2 linked regions of the Homo sapiens genome follow. The protein of the gene in region 2 purifies or fractionates together with the protein of the main gene of each other region. This does not show direct contact. Each region holds a gene or a part of one and is shown on either strand. Other genes may lie near its edges.

What was found.
Region 1: the proteins of FAM76A (region 2) and TOX4 purify together in Homo sapiens (affinity purification with mass spectrometry, with the first as the bait; one large-scale study listed by BioGRID). This does not show direct contact.

Annotation. Positions count from the first base shown.
Region 1 is NC_000014.9:21,486,907-21,490,729, reverse strand, and holds part of TOX4 (TOX high mobility group box family member 4), read right to left. Parts: intron 3,280-3,823; coding exon 3,037-3,279; intron 2,141-3,036; coding exon 1,880-2,140; intron 1,558-1,879; coding exon 1,327-1,557; intron 1-1,326. UniProt on the Homo sapiens protein: Transcription factor that modulates cell fate reprogramming from the somatic state to the pluripotent and neuronal fate. In liver, controls the expression of hormone-regulated gluconeogenic genes such as G6PC1 and PCK1.
Region 2 is NC_000001.11:27,760,268-27,763,918, reverse strand, and holds the end of FAM76A (protein FAM76A), read right to left. Parts: intron 3,425-3,651; coding exon 3,338-3,424; 3' UTR 803-3,337; downstream 1-802.

The sequences.
Region 1 (3,823 bases), on a different chromosome or scaffold from region 2:
AGACTTAGAAAAGTTAAATATCTAAAAATTGAACAGAAGGACACTACATGAGGAATTATAGGAGACATTATTAGTGGAAAGTACATGGGAAGAGTTAAAGAACCTGGATTGTGTCTCAACTTTACCACTTAAATGTTATATGACCTTAACTGGGCAGTGGGCTCCAGTTTCCACCTTAAAAGCGGGAAATGGTAGCTATTTTTGAGAGTTATTGTAAAGATGCAGTACTTCTGTAACAATTATTATTATTTTTTGAGATGGAGTTTCACTCTTGTTGCCCAGGCTGGAGTGCAATGGCATGATCTCGGCTCACCGCAACCTCTGCCTCCCGGGTTCAAGCAATTCTCCTGCCTCAGCCGCCTGAGTAGCTGGGATTTGAGGCATGCCACCACACCCGGCTAATTTTTTTGTATTTTTAGTAGAGTCGGGGTTTCAATGTCAGCCAGGATGGTGTTGATCTCCTGACTTCGTAATCCGCCTGCCTCGGCTTCCCAAAGTGCTGGGATTAACAGGCGTGAGCCACCGCGCCCGGCCTATAACAATTATTATTTATTTATTTGAGCCGGGGTCTTGCTCTGTCACCCAGGCTGGAGTGCAGTGACACAAACATGGCTCACTGCAGCCTTTATATCCTGAACTCAAGCAATCCTCCCGCCTCAGCCTCCACAGCTGGGACCAAAGGCACATGCCACCACACCCAGCTAATTTTCTGTGAGACGGGGGTCTCCCTATGTTGCCCAGGATGGTCTCGAACTCATGGGCTCAAGCAATCCTCCTGCCCTGGCCTCCCAAAGTGCTGGGATTAAAAGCATGAGCCACCACACTCAGCCTATTAATAATTTTTAAATAGGCCGGGCGCAGTGGCTCATGCCTGTAATCCCAGCACTTTGGGAGGCCGAGGCGGGTGGATCACGAGGTCAGGAGATCGAGACCATCCTGGCTGACATGGTGAAACGCCGTCTCTACTAAAAATACAAAAACAAAATTAGCCCAGTGTGGTGGAAGCGCCTGCAGTCCCAGCTACTCGGGAGGCTGAAGCAGGAGAATGGCGTGAACCCAGGAGGCGGAGCTTGCAGTGAGCTGAGATCACGGCACTGCACTCCAGCCTGGGTGACAGAGCGAGACTCTGTCTCAAAAAAAAAAAATTTAAATAGGTTTTCTGGAGTGAGTGTATGGCTGCAACTTCGAAGACAAGGGATGATATTTAAGTGTCATTAACAAACAGCTGATATTAGATAAGGACATGTAAGAAAAAAGAAAACCTCAATTTTTATCTCTTTAAAAACTTCTGGAACATTCACTACTAGTTCCTCAATATTTGCTCACCTGTTTTTGCTCCTCTCCAAGACTATCCCACATGGAGGCCACAATTTTTGAAACCTCACCAAAAGTGGCATTAGGATTCTGTCCCTTGATGGCAGCCTGTGTATCACGAAAGAATAAAGCATATGCTGAAACTGGTTTCTGAGGTTCATTAGGATCTTTCTTTTTTCTCTTCTTTGGGGCCTTCTGCTTTTTCCCTGCTTCCACCACGACTGTCTTCTGGCTGGGAAGTTGCTGTAGGAGAGAAAAAAGAGAGAATTACACAATGGACAATGACAAGTATTATGTCTGGAAACTAGCCACATGTATGGAATTTTCAGAAATGCTAAAAATCATAGAAATAGCATTAAAAGACATTAGTCAAATATGGAGAACCAATAAGAATAGGGATTGAGAGGAGAATTATAAACTGGAAATTGGGAGGTGGAACCCCATACCCAGAAAACAGCAGAGGAGATGGCACGGCAAGGGTAAAGAATACTGATTAGGCTCTGTATCCCAAAAATTTTATCCCAGACTATCACAGCAGAATTGATTTTGACAGGGAATGCCTCACCCTCCGGAAATCCTCAACACCATCCTCGTGAAGTGAACTAGTAGGTGAAGGGGTGGTTGAAAGACGATCTTCAGGTGACTGGGCAGGTGGCAGGATGGTGCCACCCCCTAGGCTCAAACCCAGCTGGGAACTCAGTTCTGACTGATCAATGGTGGTCAACTGGCTATGCCCCATCAAGCCAGATGTCATGTCTGTCATTGGTACATCAATTGTAACAGGTGGGTTGGCACTATACTGAGTTCCTATAGAGTGGTCCAAGTCCTGAGAGAAGCAGAAGGACTAATTAAACACTAAATATAAAAAAAACCACTTTTCCCCCCTAAATTTAAGACAGCTTATAAATTCCCTGCCTACCCAAATTGTATCATTTAAAATACAAAACATAAAATAGTCTTCAAAAATGAAAATAAAAAAATAAGCTTTTTAAAAAAGTACAGAAATTAATGAATTTACTTCTTTGCACTCAAAAGAAGAACTAAAAATAATCAGAGAAGTCGCACTGTTGGACAAGTCAAAGAGCTATCAACTTATTCAGTAATATATAGGTAGTGACAACACATTGAGTAAAGAAAAACTTCCTATCTGTACTCTCCCAAAATAATAGCTTTTAAAATTGTAATACATAGGCAATCAGCATAAATAAGGCCAATATTAAAGTCTGGCATCAAATATAGAGTATGAAGATGTGCTTACTGGTTCGATGTGCTGGAAGCCCAATATACTGATTTATATTACATACTAATCCACAATACTATATTTGGCTCAGACTTTTTTTTTTTTTTTAAGCTCTGTTCTGCTGGCTGCTCAACGTGATTCAGGCCATTTTTGAATAAATCCCTCCGTGTGCCAGCTATCACATTCAAATTTGAATCCTAGGATGTGAAGGCCATAATAAAAGCAGAAAACACTTTTTCCCAAAAACCACAATAAATAATTTTCAAACCAGACATTGTACAATTTTAAATTATTTTTCAAGTAAAATCTACCTACATGGTAAATTTCATTTATTCAGGTGAAATTAAGTCTTTGTTGGTGAGCCTTTAGCCACAAGAAGAGAAACAAGTAATACCCAAGTGTAGCAGGGAATAGAGTAACTTTGTCTCCCCTAATGCCATGCCCATTAGCTGGGGTAAGCCTGACAATGTCTTGCCCCTTACCATGGTCAAGCCCCCACTCAGGAGCCCCCCGCCCTGCTCCATCAAGCCATGGGTCATGCCCACAGGCATGTCCAATGTCTGGACCCCATACTGGGCTGAAAAACTGCCATCCTGTGAAGAGGAAGGGTCTGCCAGGTCATCAAAGTGGCCAACCACATCTGAGACAGCCAATGAGGGATCAGAATCCAAGGAGATAGGTGGGATTTCAAATTCCTCATCACCCAAGCTTGGTGTATGGAATGTCTGTAGGGGAAAAAAGGGGGAAAAGAATTAGTGAAAAGAGGAGAAATGGCATACTACTAAGTGAAGAACATAATGGGGTACTAGAGATTCTCAGGATGCATTTTTTCTGCTTAGGATCCTATTTTATAATCAATTTCTTAGAACCTATTATTTTTACCAATCTCTCTTCTGATACCCTTGGTCATTTGGTACATTCAAGGCTGCTAACATCAGTCACAATTTTCAATTCTTTTATCTCTTTTCTACCATTACCGTCTCTTTTGTCTTAAATTATGCCTATGGTTCTAATGAAAAATTCTTTCAGTACCATTACTTAGGACATAGCCTTTATAACCTGTTTACTATGATTCTTGAAATCTCTCTCTAAAGATTCTAATAGAGCAGTTATTTCACAATTATTACATCTAAACTGTTAGGTCACAGAAATTCGCTGTCAGCCAGCCAATTATACTTTGTTGTTTTAGGTTCCTTTCAAACAGATGCTAAAATGTACTGTCATGGGAACTTTACCCCCTCTAAAATATTTGCAGAGTTTCCTACTTCT
Region 2 (3,651 bases):
AATACAAAAAAATTAGCTGAATGTGTTGGTGCGCCACCTGTAGTTCCAGCTACTTGGGAGGCTGAGGCTGGAGAATCACTTGATCCCAGAAGGCAGAGGTTGCAGTGAGCCGAGATCATGCCACTGCACTCCAGCCTGGGTGACAGAGCATGACTCCATTAAAAAAAAAAAAAGTTTTTTTTAAATCAAGGAACAATGGTGGTGTGGTGGTGTCCAATATTCCACTAAATGGAAGCCCCATAAGTACAATAACTTGGTTTTGTCACTGCTGTAACCGCGCTGCCTAGCACAGTGCCTATCACAACATGAGCACTTACACTGGGTAAACAGAATCACCAAGAGGCTGGGTGTGGTAGCTCATGCCTGTAATCCTAGCACTTTGGGAGGCTGATGAGGTGGGTGGATGGCTTGAGTCCAGGAGTTGGAGACCAGCCTGGATGGCAAAACCCTATCTTCACAAAAAATACAAAAATTAGCTGGGTATGGTGGCGTGCATCTGTAGTCCCAGCTACTTGGGAGGCTGAGGTGGGAGAATCCCCAGGAAGTCGGGGCTGCAGTGATCTACTTGCCACTGTACTCCAGCCTGGATGACTGAGTGAGACTCTGTCTCAAAACAGTCATAGAAGAGAGAAAGAAAGAGTTTATTCTCTAATGGACAGGAAATTCCCAATTAGCAGTTAGGCTTTTAATTTTTTAAGTCTATAAGCAAGACAAACTTTTCTAGGCTGAAGGGCTGAAGGGGATAACGGGGTATGTCTACTGGTAAACAGCAAGAAATAAAAACAAAATCCAACAATTACACTTGAGTCAATATGAATTTTTATTAACACACATTTGTCAAAGTCTGTACAAACCAAAACATTCCTGTGTTTTAAAATGTCCATTATTACAAACATACAAAGAAACAAAAGGTGTTACCAAAAGTTAGCTACTCAATTTCATGGTAAAACAGTGTCATGATTTTTAAAAATCAAAATTTCAAGACTGAGGTTTCTTCTTTCCCTTTTTGGAACTTATGGAAAGTTAGAAAACGTGTGAATTTGCTTTATATTAAATGCCAAGACCTTAAAAAAAGATTTAGTATAAAACTAAGTATGTTTTTATATTGTCATACATCATGTAACAGAATTTCAGTCCTTAAAATTAAAAAAAAACACCATGACTGTCATTTCCCCCTAATTTTTCTCCCATAGTCAATGCAAATGCATCTGAAAAATATTATGACAGTTTATCTTTACCTAAAAGCTTCTCATTCAAAAACTTTACAAAACTATTTAGCACTGCCATTTCCCTTGCTTAGAAGGGAAAATTATATCCCCTAGTAGGGTGATATATAAGCGACATGGTCCACTGTATCCCTTATCAGAAGGAAACCACCATTTCCACATCTCTGTCCAATTATGTGTAGGACTCCATTTATGAGAATGCTATCACAAATTATAGAGCATCTGCTTCCAGGAAACGCCTAGAAGTTAAATTTAGTACTATAATTTTTTGGTAGACTGAGGTACAAATGTTATCTGCCCTCATTATTATTTCTAACTCTAGTACCCCCTGCATAAATGATTCTAGGGTAGTTGGTTTTGTTGTTTCATGGCACACATGACACACCCTAATTCCTTTCACAAACATCACATAGAGGACCTGAGAGTATGCCTAGAAATGTAAATCTATCCCCTTTCCTGGAAAAGTAAATCCATATTCCTACAGGGTTAAGAAGGGAAGATAGGCAGGGCATACATAACTCTGGTTGAGGCAAAGTGCTTCTGAGAAGCACCTGTTTTCAATACATATCCATGAAAAGCAGGGAGTGTATGGGCTCGGGTGGGTGAGGAGTGGGGAGAAGGTATAGTGATACCACTTTTCCCAGACTCAAGAGTCCTTACTAGAGCAGCTCATGCTGACCCCAAAAATGCTCTGTAGTTCAAATATTATTCCTTTTTTTTTTTTTTTTGAGACGGAGTCTCACTCCATTGCCCAGGCTGCAGTGCAGTGTTGCGATTTCAGCTCATTGCAACCTCTGCCTCCCGGGATTCGAGCAGTTCTCCTGCCTCAGCCTCCTGGGTAGCTGGGATTACAGGTGCATGCCACCAGGCCCGGCTAATTTTTGTATTTTTTTAGTACAGATGGGGTTTTACCATGTTGGCCAGGATGGTCTCAAACTCCTAACCTCAAATGATCCACCCGCCTTGGCCTCCCAAATTGCTGGTATTACAGGCGTGAGCCACCGCACCCGACCATATTATTCCATTTTTAATCTGTTCATTCATGTAAAAAAACATTCTCTGACAGCAGCCCAGTATGACAACTGATATAAGCAAATAAAGGATTTTATTTTTTAAAGAAGTGGCAGTGTGAGAATTTAAAATCAATCACATAAAACAATCAGGAAAGGGGTGGGGAGAGAAGTGTCCAGTACAACCTGGACAACCTTGCTTTCTGCCCTTACTTAAAAAGACAGACGGTTCAAATCTTTGCTACCTCCCTTAAGTATCTCCATAAATGCTCTTCCAAGAAATCCTCCAAAAGGCACTTAGCTCCATACTTATGCATTGAATTGTTTCACCTTAGCAATCAGTTTTTAAGACTCCAAGGTAACAAGAAAGAAAAGATCTGATTCTTTTACTAAAAGCTAGTGAATAGGACTGTTTTTTTTTCAAGAGGCATCACTTTTACAAGAACTAGCTAGACCACCATTATTCCTTTATCAAGAAAAAGTTTCTTTTTTAAAAAATAAATAAAACTCTGGCTATACATAGTACAAAGTTCATACATAATACATCTGGAAAAAAACCGAAGAGTATACCCTGAAGCAAAAGGTTTATTGGAGAGAGAAAGCCTCTTCCATTATACCAAGTCTGAAGATGGCAGTTTTCAAAGTTCAGAGGGTGGCAGTGATATATAATTAATGCCAAACTGTTTGCTCATGGGTATGGCAGGATGCAATGAAGGACCAAAAAAAAAAAAAAAAACAAAAAACAAATCATTCTGCACATTACACTGAGCAGTGACCACCACAAAAAAAAAAAAAAAAAAAAAAAGAAAAAAGAAAAAAAAAGAATAGAACCAAAATAGAGAGAAGAGGAAGAAGAAAAAGAAAAGTCCTAATAGTGAGAGAAAGAGAGCGAGCTTGAAATCCCAAACACTCAAGCATGCAGTCTAACACAGCACAAACCAGGTGTTTCCATTCAGCCCACTGCAATCGCACAAAGAAGGATAACTGTAATAAAATAGAGATTTCTTAAGAAAGCTTGCAATTCCCACAGAACAGCCAGGTCTCCAACCCTAACCCTGGACAACTCCATTTGCTGTTGCTAGGGAGCCTCCTTGAGGTCTGTCATGGAGAGGTTATAGCTCCTGACTTCTCTGACTTCTTGCTCTTGGACAAAGCAGCTGCCTGCTTCAGGAGCTCTCGGTTTTTGGCCTAAAGAAAAAAAAAATCAGTGCAAGAAGGATGTTTCAAACAGGATATAAGCTATTTTTCATGCAGAGTAAGTGCAGATGCTAAGGCAGACAATGTGGAGGGTCAGAAAGAGATGAACAATTCTAGAGGTGGAAAACAACAGGAAGCTCTAGGGCTTGAAACTTGGTTCAGGAGAAAAAAGTATTTGCCAGAGGTTAATCAGTGTACCTCAATCTCTTGGGACCCAC